Linked DNA regions of Homo sapiens: region 1 is linked to region 2. The links come from fine-mapping of genetic effects on gene expression. A gene starts in region 2. The other region holds a variant in brackets. All regions are shown on one strand. Distances are between the middles of the regions. Region 1 holds the start of LOC124903637 (a long non-coding RNA gene). Region 2 holds the start of PPL (periplakin).

What was found. PIP is the estimated chance that this variant, and not a neighbour inherited with it, causes the effect.
Region 1: its variant is the best candidate, but not a certain one, in a credible set for the expression of PPL in whole blood (GTEx, PIP 0.73).

What each region holds. Positions count from the first base shown.
Region 1 is chr16:4,891,549-4,896,910 of GRCh38, reverse strand. PPL (periplakin) reads left to right here. Exons shown (of 22, transcript NM_002705.5): 10 at 1,195-1,317; 11 at 1,504-1,650; 12 at 2,293-2,444; 13 at 3,273-3,370; 14 at 3,541-3,698; 15 at 4,698-4,876; 16 at 4,962-5,100. LOC124903637 (a long non-coding RNA gene) reads right to left here and starts at 1,195. Exons shown (of 3, transcript XR_007064965.1): 1 at 331-1,195. RefSeq lists an enhancer at 808-1,653. The variant G/A (reference allele first, on the strand shown) is at 2,656.
Region 2 is chr16:4,934,415-4,939,776 of GRCh38, reverse strand. PPL (periplakin) reads left to right here and starts at 2,629. Exons shown (of 22, transcript NM_002705.5): 1 at 2,629-2,793. The coding sequence starts at 2,732. RefSeq lists a silencer at 2,287-2,686.

The sequences.
Region 1 (5,362 bases), 43 kb after region 2:
GTAATTCCAGCACTCTGGGAAGCCGAGGCGACTGGATCACCTGAGGTCAGGAGTTCAAGACCAGCCTGGCCAACATGATGAAACCCCATCTCTACTAAAATACAAAAGTTAGCCAGGTGTGGTGGCCCATATCTGTAGTCCCAGATGGGAGGCTGAGGCAGGAGAACTGCTTGAACCCAGGAGGCAGAGGTTGCAGTGAGCTGAGATCGCGCCATTGCACTCCAGCCTGGGCGACAGAGTGAGTCTCCGCCTCAAAAAAAAAAAAAAAAAACAACCCCGTACTCATTAGGCAGTAAGTTTTCCATTCCCACTCCCCCAGCCCCAGGTCACCTTTGGTCTTCTTGCTGTCTCTATGGACTTGCCTGTTCCAGAAGTGTCACACCTAGAACGAATATGAAGAATCAGTGGGATCATGCAATCTCTGCCCTTTTGTGTCTGGCTTCTCTCACTGAGCATCATGTTTTCCGGGTTCATCCGTGTTGTAGCATTTTCAGTGCTTCACCCCTTTTTATGGCTGAATCATATCCTATTGTATGGCTAGACCACTGTGTTTATCCACTCATCTGTGGCTGGACACTTGTCTGTTTCCAGAGGAATGAGAGTTCTTAAGAAGCTGCGGGTAATTCTTAGGATTGAGGTGTCTGGGGAAAGCTGGATGTGGGCGACGCCGTGTCACTCCTCATTCCCTGTCTGAGCCGCACAGTGGGGGCTTCAGGTCCTGTTTATGGCTGCAGCCCAGGTGCTCAGCCCAGGGGATAGCTGACAGTGAACCAAGAGTTGATAGACTGAAGAATGGGCAAGAGAATTTTCGAGAACAAAAAGGGGAGGCTATTATCAAAACCTAGAAAGAAGCTATAGTATTAAGTCTGGATGTTCCTAGTACAGAGAGAGGAACTGAATCAAAGACACCTCAAGACTTACTGATACATCCAAGAAAACATGTCACAGAGGTGGCATCTCATGGATGGGTGGGAAGGGACCTGGCTTTTCCCAGTGAGGCCCCTAAGGAGCCAGCTCAGGGAGGGTGGGGCTGTCTCCACGCAGAGGAGCCTCAGGCTCAGCACAGGGTCCCATGCTGGACTCCAGGTGAACCGGAGGCCCAGCCCCGCCTGAGGGATGAGCTTGAAGCCTCCGACAGAAGCCCAGGTGCTTCTAGTGGTTTCCTGGCTGTAACAGAGCCACCTTCTCCCCTAGTTTCACGAAGACGTGAAGGACGCTCAGGAGCTGCTGCGCAAGGTGGACTCGGACCTGAACCAGAAGTATGGCCCTGACTTCAAGGACCGGTACCAGATTGAGCTGCTGCTGCGGGAGCTGGATGTGAGCGATGGCCCAGGACCCCTGCTGGCCCGGGGGGCGGGGGACCCCTCTACACCATGCCTGCCCTCAGCCCTGTACAGGCCCCTCCACAGCACCCCACCTGCTGAATCCAGCCCCTGCTCTGCGTCCTCCCACCAGGGGGAAGGCTGTTGGTCTCACCTGGGCCCCTGACCCCGTTCTCTCCAGGACCAGGAGAAGGTGCTGGACAAGTATGAGGACGTGGTGCAGGGGCTGCAGAAGCGAGGCCAGCAGGTGGTGCCCCTCAAGTACCGCCGGGAGACTCCGCTCAAGCCCATCCCCGTGGAGGCACTCTGTGACTTTGAGGGGGAGCAGGTGCGTGGGGCCAGCTCCTCTGTTCACATCACTACAAAGTTTTTGGGGTAACATGGTTGGATCCCGGGCCTCAGGCGCCGTTCTCAGGAGCCTGTGCCTGTCTCCGTGGTTGGTGTCACTCTGCCAACCCTTCCCCTGGTGCAGGCCAACTGGCACCCCTATGCCGCCCCCACCTCGGCTGCCCTGGCCTTGTGTTCCACCAGCTTAGCAACCCCAGTCCCTCCTCAGAAGTCCCAGGCCAGGTTCTCATTGGCTCACTGTGAGTCACGTGTCCATCCTACACCAATCACTGTGGCCAGGGAATGCCAGGGTCCACCCTATACCAATGACTGTGGCTGGCGAATGCCAGTCATTGGCCAGGTCCAAGTCACATGTCCATCTGGAGCTTGGGAATGGAGAAGGAGAGACCACAGGGACTGGGAATTGGGAGGGAAGGTTCCCCAAAGGGAAATGGAGGTGGGTTGCTGGGCCGGCAGCCTCAACACATGTGCTTCTCCTGCATGCCCCTCCCCACTCTACGGGGAGGGTCCAAGTGATGAGCCGGGGCTCCCCAGGTCCAAGAGTCGGGGGCTGAGATGGCAACCGGGCTCCCAGGCCCTCAGGCCCTGCCGGGATCCTGACTGTCCAGCCTGCCCCCGCCAGGGCCTGATCTCGCGGGGCTACAGCTACACCCTGCAGAAGAACAACGGGGAGAGCTGGGAGCTCATGGACAGCGCTGGGAACAAGCTGATTGCTCCGGCCGTGTGTTTTGTGATCCCCCCCACAGACCCTGAGGCCCTGGCTCTGGCTGACAGGTACAAGGGCAAAGGCGGGAGTCTGCATGGACCAGTCCCACCCCCAGGGCTTCTCAGGCCCCATTCATAGCCCCGGGGATTTGGACTCAGCCTGTGGGGAGCGCGGGGTCGCTGACACTCTCCATCTGCACCCCCTTGGAAGTTCATGCAGGAGAGGGGCAGATTGTGGGCCAGCTGACTTGCTAAACATGAATGTCTAGCTCTGGGCTTC[G/A]TCCTGGCCCCCTCACGAGTTTCTAAGCAGTTTCTAAGGGCCCCTGACTCCCGCACGCACTGCTCCCTGTACTTGCAGACCCCAGCCCCTTGGCTGGAGGACTCAGCTGGGATAAGGGCTGCCTCCTCTTTGCTCCCAGGCACCTTCTTCCACTGCACGCACCGCTTTTTATTAAGTGACTAGCGTATGCGTCAGTCTCATTGGGCCTGGGCTCCTTGAATTTCCTCTCTCCAGGGCCTAGTTAAGTACCTGGTACAAAGTAGGTGCCCAGGAACTCCTTGCTGAATGAGTGGATCATTCAAGGAATGCCTTCATTTATTAAGTATTTATTGAGCACCTACTGTGTATGCTCCCTCAGAAGTAACATCTTGGTGGTGATTATTGGACAGACAATTTTAGGTAGTGAGACTTCCTACGAAAGAGGAGGGAAGGAGGGAGAAGAGCTCTGAGCCCAGGAGCACAGAAAGGCCAGTGCCACAGTGAGCACTTGCTGTCCGCATCTAAGGAGCTGTCAGGCTCCTCTGGGGTGTCTGCCCAGCCAGAGTCCGCAGTCCCGCCTCTGTGGGTGCAGGGGGTGGTGGGCTGCCCAGGTTCCCAGCTCATTTCTGTCCTCACAGCCTGGGCAGCCAGTACCGGAGCGTGCGGCAGAAGGCAGCTGGGAGCAAACGCACGCTGCAGCAGCGGTATGAGGTGCTGAAGACCGAGAATCCCGGAGGTGGGTGCCAGGGCCACTCGCCTGAGGCTCTGGGGGTACCGGGGAGGAGGGGCTGGACCAGGGTCTGTGCTGTGGATGAGACGGCGGGGGGCTGGCTGCCTAGGTCCATCCCTGGGCCTCACACCCCTGGCCCGTTGTCACACCTGCCTGTGTCCTCCCTCCCTCCACAGATGCCTCTGACCTACAGGGGCGGCAGCTGCTGGCTGGCTTGGACAAGGTGGCCAGCGACCTGGACCGGCAGGAGAAGGCCATCACAGGGATCCTGCGGCCACCACTGGAGCAAGGCCGGGCTGTGCAGGACAGTGCCGAGCGGGCCAAGGACCTCAAGGTACCTGCGGGTCAGGAGCACAGGTGGGGCCGGGGGAGCCCTGCACTGGCCCCCTGGGGCCCCTATTTGAGGTCTTTTCCCCATGGAGTCTTGGGATATTCACTGCAGCTGTCTGTCAGGGACAGCCTGCTGCATGTAAAAGGGTCCCAAGTCATGGAGGTGGCAGGGCTGCTGTCATTACCTCCCCAGGAGAAAGAGCTGGCAGGACTTGCATTGTTCCTGCACGGCTTGTCGATCTGACGCCTGGCATGGCACATGGGCTGTGGAATTCCGCAGGACTGGGTCACCGGCTGGCTTGACTGCAAACACGTTAGCGTTTGTATTTATAAACTCCAGGCCTCAGTGTCTTCAGTAGGATGGGTTGGCCCTGCTCACAGGGCAGTGGCGAGGACAGGGTGAGCTGATGCCAGGGGGGACGTGGAGGGGCCACCTCCCCCCACCTCCTTTCCTATACAAAGTCTCCCACATCCTCAAGGCAGCCCTCTGAGGCAGTGAGTAGCACTCCAATTTTACAGAAGAGGATCTGGGATTGGAGAAGTGCCATAGCCCCTGATGGGGCCTCAGAGTGAGAGCCAAGTCAGGGCGAGAGGATGCCGGTCTCGGGTGTAGCCTGACCCCACAAGTCCCTTCCTAAGCTGCTGGGAGTCGTCACACCCCCACCCGTGACTGGGTGGAGTCGTAGTACTCACCTCCCGGGGTTGCCGCAAAGATTAAACAGAAGCGTCCGCGTGCAGTGCTGAGGACAGCACAGGCCCGGCAGCTGCCTGGGTGCTTCTGGTGTCACTAGTCCATTCCACCTCAGCGGTTCCCTGGGATGCTCGTGAAAAATACAGCCCTCAGGCTGGGGTCCAGATGCCGGGTCAGAGCCCCAGAATGTGCCAGGCCTCTCCAGCTGCTTCCACTGTGCCTGATGTGGGAATCTGTGCTCACCCTGGGCACATCCTCAGGGGAAGGGGCTGCCTGGCTGTGTCCAAAACTGAGGGGCCCTGGTTCCCACAGAACATCACCAACGAGCTACTGCGGATTGAACCTGAGAAGACGCGGAGCACGGCTGAGGGCGAAGCCTTCATCCAGGCCCTCCCAGGCAGTGGCACCACACCCCTGCTGAGGACCCGGGTGGAGGACACCAACCGGAAATACGAGCACCTCCTGCAGCTGCTGGACTTGGCCCAGGAGAAGTGGGTGGCAGACAGGCAGCATGGAGGTTGGGGTGGGGTCAGGGGGCCAGGTGGGCATCCCCCGACGCCTGATTGGTGCTCTCAGGGTTGATGTGGCCAACCGCCTGGAGAAGAGCCTGCAGCAGAGCTGGGAGTTGCTGGCCACACACGAGAACCATCTGAATCAGGATGACACAGTGCCTGAGAGCAGCCGTGTCCTGGACAGCAAGGGGCAGGAGCTGGCGGTGAGTCTAGGGCCCAAGTCCTGGGAGTCCTTCTCTGAGCAGGTGAGAGCATCTGGCACATCCACCCGCCCGTCTGGATAGATGAGGACACCAGCATCCAGTCTCCCCAGGTTTGGAATGCCCAAATTGGGAACTGCAAATGGAGGCCCACAGCACAAATCCAAGCTATTCACGGGATCTGTGTGACTTACGGGATTTCGGGTGCCAGCATTTTAAGATCAAATATCTGCAATAGCCAGTGTAGTGGCACATGCCTGTAACA
Region 2 (5,362 bases):
TCACAGCTGTAATCCCAGCACTTTGGGAGGCTGAGGCAGGCAGATCACAAGGTCAGGAGTTCAAGACCAGCTTGGCCAACATGGCAAAACTCTGTCTCTACTAAAAATACAAAAATTAGCAGGGCGTGGTGGCAGCAGGAGAGTTGCTTGAATCCAGGAGGCAGAGGTTGCAGTGAGCCGAGAGTGTGTCATTGCACTCCAGCCTGGGCGACAAGAGCCAGACTGTCAAAAAAAAAATAATAATTAATTAATTTAAAAAAAATTAGCCAGGCATGGTGGTGCACACCTGTGGTCCCAGCTACTTGAGAGGGAGGCTGAGAAGAGACAACGGCTTCCGTCTGGGAGGTCAAGGAAGGCTGCAGTGAGCCATGATCACGCCACTGCACTCCAGCCGGAGCAACACAGCAAGACCCTATCTCCAAAAAAAAAGAAAGAAAAAGAAAAGTTAACGTGTTTTTGTTTTTGTTTTTGTTTTTTGACGAAGTCTCACTCTGTCGCCCAGGCTGGAGTGCAGTGGCACGATCTCAGCTCACTGTGACCTCCCAGGCTGGAGTGCAGTGGCGTGATATGAGCTCACTGCAACCTCCCCTTCCCAGTTTCAAGAGATTCTCCTGCCTCAGCTTCCCAAGTAGCTGGGACTACAGGCAGGCGCCACCACGCCCAGCTAATTTTTTATTTTTAGGAGAGACGGGGTTTCACCATGTTGGTCAGGCTGGTCTTGAACTCCTGACCTCAGGTGATCCCCCTGCCTCGACCTCTCAAAGTACTGGGATTACAGGAGTGAGCCACCGCGCCCATCCAAGTTAACATTTTTAATATGTGTCCCCTGCCCCGGGACCTGAAAGCTCCCAAAGAGAAAGCCCCTTTTGTGTTGTTCTTTTCCCTTTTCTCATCCGTGTACAACAAGCAGAGCCAGGCACACTGAGGCTGTGAGAGTGATGGGAAACATGTGTTGAATGAGTAAATGACTCCACTGAGCAATACATCCTCCCCCAGAAAAATGCACATTTGGACACACACATTTTGAAAGCAACTTTAGGGCTGGGTGCAGTGGCTCACACCTGAAATCCCAGCACTTTGGGAGGCCAAGGTGGGAGGACTGCTTGAGCCCAGGAATTCAAGACCAGCTTGGGCAACACAGCGAGACCCCATCTCTACAAAAAACATATATAAATATAAAGGTTTTAAAAATTAGCCAGGCGTGGTGGTGGACACCTGTGGATCCAGCTACTCGGGAAGCTGAGGTGGGAGGATTGCTTGAGCCCCAAAAGTCAAGGCTGCAGTGAGCTATGATTGTGCCAATGCACTCCAGCCTGGGCAACTGAGTCTCAAAGAAGAAAGAAGAAAGAAAGCAAGAAAGCAAGAAAGGAAAGAGAGAGGAAGGAAAGAAGGAAGGCAGGCAGGCAGGCACAACTTTAGGAGGAATCACACCTCTATTTACGCCTAGTGGTCCATTATTGGAACGTGACGCCTGTGGGAGTTATCTCCTACTGCTCAAGGTCACTGCCAAGGTATGATTTATCAATTCAAAAAATTGCAACCTCAGGCATAAATGGGTTAAGCCCACCCATAGAAGCCCCATTAAGAATAAGGTTGGCTGGGCACGGTGGCTAATATCTGTAATCCCAGCACTTTGGGAGGCTGTAGGCCGGCAGATCACTTGAGCACAGGAGTTCAAGACCAGCCTGGGCAACATGGTGAAACTCTGCCTCTACAAAAATTTTTAAAAATTAGCCAGGTGTGGTGGTGTGTGCCATCCGGGCTTCAGGTCAGATTAGGTTTCTGTCTAAGGGCAGCCTCCTCCACTGGCACACAGTCTGGGCCAGGACATGCTGGCAGAATTGTGCAACGTCGTTGTTCTGAGCCGCAATCGAGCAGCTTTTATGACCAGCTATGAAGCGCTCTTCTAGTGCCAGGGCCTGGAGTTATTGAAGTTTCAAAGGAGTTTTTGTCCACCCGAGATGGCAAGCGGAGAGCAGATTCAGGCCAGGGCACTGCGCTCAGCGCTTTGCGTGCATTACCTGCAGGGACATCCCCACAGGCCTTTCGGATGGGGTGGTGGTTATCACCGTTTGACAAAGAAGTAAACTGTGGCTGGGAGCAGTAAAACACCTTGCCCAGGAGTGTCAGCCAACCTGGGGGTGGCAGGGCTTGAACTCAGGCCGGCGCCCTCGGCAGTTCAGCCCCCTTCCCTCAATTGCCACCATCTGAGTGCAATTCGCTAGCTACTAGGGCACATGAATCCGTGCGGGTCTCTGCCGCACCTGTCTTGCGGGGCCCAGCTGGGTGTCCGCCAAAGCACCAGGAGCGCCGAGTTCCGCGGTAGCGCAGAACCAGGTGAAGGCCTCGGCCAGAGGCGCGCCGGGCCCGAGGAGGGTGGGGCTGCGAGCGCTCGCCCCGGCGGCCTTTGCGCCCCAGTGCCTGCCCGGCCTCCGGAGTCCCCCGGCTGGGGGTGGGCGGCGTCCGGCCAAGACCCAGTGTCCCCACCCCCGCGTCCAAGCCCCGCCCGCGCGGTGGCCCCTCCTCGGGAAGGTAAGCACCACCTTCTCGGGGAGCGGCCCGCAGAGCCAGTGGCCGGCGGGCGCCCCGCCCCCAGCGAGTAGGGACCCGGAGCCACTGCCGCGCCGCAGTCCGGGCTCCCCGCGCCGCCGCTCGCTCACCTGCGCTCCCGCCCGCCCCTCGGTGCGCGCCCGGCCCGCCAGCCGCCGCCGCCCGCACCCCGAGCGCCACCATGAACTCGCTCTTCAGGAAGAGAAACAAAGGCAAATACAGCCCCACTGTGCAGACCCGGAGGTGAGGAGGCGCCCACAGCTCCGCTCCGGGACGCTCTTGCCCCTGTGGGCGCACAGGACCTGGAAGACCTCCCGGGCAGTGTAGGAATGGGGGGTACGGGGGTCCAGGAACCGGGAACTGAACCCGGAGTGCGGGACTCTCGGGAACGCGGGACCGAGGCCACCCTGAAGCTGGGAAGCGCCGCCAGGTGGGAAGGGACTGGCTGGGGTCCCCGAGGGGGAGCATAACACAGGGGACTCCGGGAGCCCAGGGAGCATTGCCTTGAGGGCCTAGGGCACGGGCAGCTGAGCTGGGGGTACAGGGCACCCCCGTGTCCCAGGGTCGCTCTTGCGCAGAGGGTCGCACAGGACCGGGAATAGTCACCTGGATGAGGGGGCGGAGTTTTTGGAGGACCGGGCACTCAAGGCGGGGTCGCTGCGGGCGACCCAGGAAGCTCCGTCCAGGGGGCGCCCTGAGGCAGGGAAACTGAGCTGGCGTCGGGGGGCGCTCTCCAGCGCCTCTGAGACCGCGCAAGTGTTCCTGGCGTCGGGGAGGCGAGGGATGGGTGTCCGGAGGGGGCGGGCCACCCGCCGCTGCACTTCCCGGCACCTGCCACCCTGCGCGCCAGAGCCGCGCCCGGAGGCCCTGGGGGGTGTGGGGTCGGGTCGAGGGGCACAGGGGGAGGCACCCCCTTACCTCCCCACCCTCTGGGTTCTGAGCGGAGGTTGGGCGGCTTCGGGGCCTCCTCTTCGAAGCTCGGTTTCGCAGGGGTGTGGCTCCCTGCCCCCACCCCAGCCCCGAAACTGGCGGCGTCTCTGAGCCGCGGGTTCCCAGGGCGGCCTGGGAGGGGAATGGCATGTCTTGATGTGTTTGCAGGGAGAAGCAGCCCACGTCCCTTTTGATAAGCCTAATGTGTTCACTTAATAACCGGTTTAGGGGAGCCTGGTGGAGATGCTGAGATTGACGGAGGGGGTGGGAATCCAGCCCCTGCCTTATATCCCCACTTCGGAAAATAGAGTGGGGGCTCTGGGCTAGCAAGGACCATTTTGCCAGCTTCTCGGACAAGAGGCTTCAGGCAGGTGAGGGGCCCGCACATTACATGGCTCTCCTGTCTGGGAGTTCTGCCCCCAAGCTGCTCTCACTGGGAGCCCCCACTGTGCCCTCAAGCAGCTCCTCACTTCTTCCCTAGGCAAGGAGAGGCCTCTGGGCCCAGGGCTCCCACTCAACCCCTGCAGTCCGGCCTAGGCCGACCAGTCGGACAGGTGCAGGCGGCGGGGCCCTAGCACGCTGGAGTGCGACACTCCATTCCGGGGCCTTCCAGCCCTTTCAGAAACCCCCCTGCCCTGTGATCCCACCCACCCGTATCTCCGTTTGGGCTCTTTCAAGCTCAGAGGCATTACCCGCCTTTAGAGATTTCCCCACCCCTCCCCTATCTTTCACAACCCCAGAGACTGGGCAGGGCCTGCACACCCCTCCTCCATGGCTGCGTCCAGCTGGCACTCAGACCCAACCAGAGGCCCGTCCAGTCCCTGCACTGTTCCCTGGGGCATTGCACAATTGGATGCTCCGTGCCAGCCGTGGAGAACCGTTCTGTCCTCTCCACCCCAGAGACTAGACCCATCCAGTCCTTCACACATGCAGACACCCACATACCAGTGGTGGGGCCAGGCCTCGCCCCGCCCTCTGCCTCCTCCCAGCCTCCCTCCTTCGTGCAGCTCTCCATCCTGAAGGCCCCAGCTTGGACCTAACAAAAGGTTCTAATGAACCCAGACAAGCTGGGAGGGGTGCGGGCTTTCCCAGAAGCATGAGGATGAAAGGCATCCCATCCTTTATAGCTGCAGGGACTGGGAGGGTCTGGGGTGGCAAAGATTTGGGGTCCTGCCACTCTCTGTATATCTGGCCCAAGGCAGCCACGGTCTGTCCTAGGCTGATAGCCATTGGTCCCAGATCTCCATTTAGACGTCTCTTTCTCCAGGAAGCCCTCCTGATTCTCTCCCCAGCCTGGGGTGCAAGACCATTCCTTTGAGCCTTGCCACCCCAGCACAGAATGAGCACAGCCACAGCCCTGAGCAGATGTCAGATGCCTCCCCGGGTGGTCTCCAAGCCCAGTGCATCCCTCTGCCCCCTCCCCTTAGTGGGGACTAGTTCGCAGACTGGATTGTGGGGTGGGGGTAGCCCTGTACCCCATCCTCTCAAACGCATCTCTTGAACATTGCCTGATGCCCAGCCAGCCCCATAGCAAGTGTCTTGGTGGGGGGGTGGAGGGGACAGACTTGCGGCTCTAGGCTGTGGTCGCTGGTCACAGGGAGTGGATCCCCAAGTTATTCCTTCACTCTGAGTTTTCCAGGGGCCCGCTCCATTGTCTGGGGGAGGACAAAATTGCTGGTGAGATTCAGCATGGGGGGCAGTAGGAGCTCCAGCACTGAGAGCAGAATGCCTCACTGTTGATCCTGGCATCTCCACCCTGGAGCCTCTCGAAGCCTTGTTTTCCCTTTCTGCACAGCACGGGTGGTAATACTGAGTGTCTCATGCATAGGGCTGCTGGGAGGAGCAGTGCTGTAGCACACAGGAGGTGCCCGGATGAGGGTAG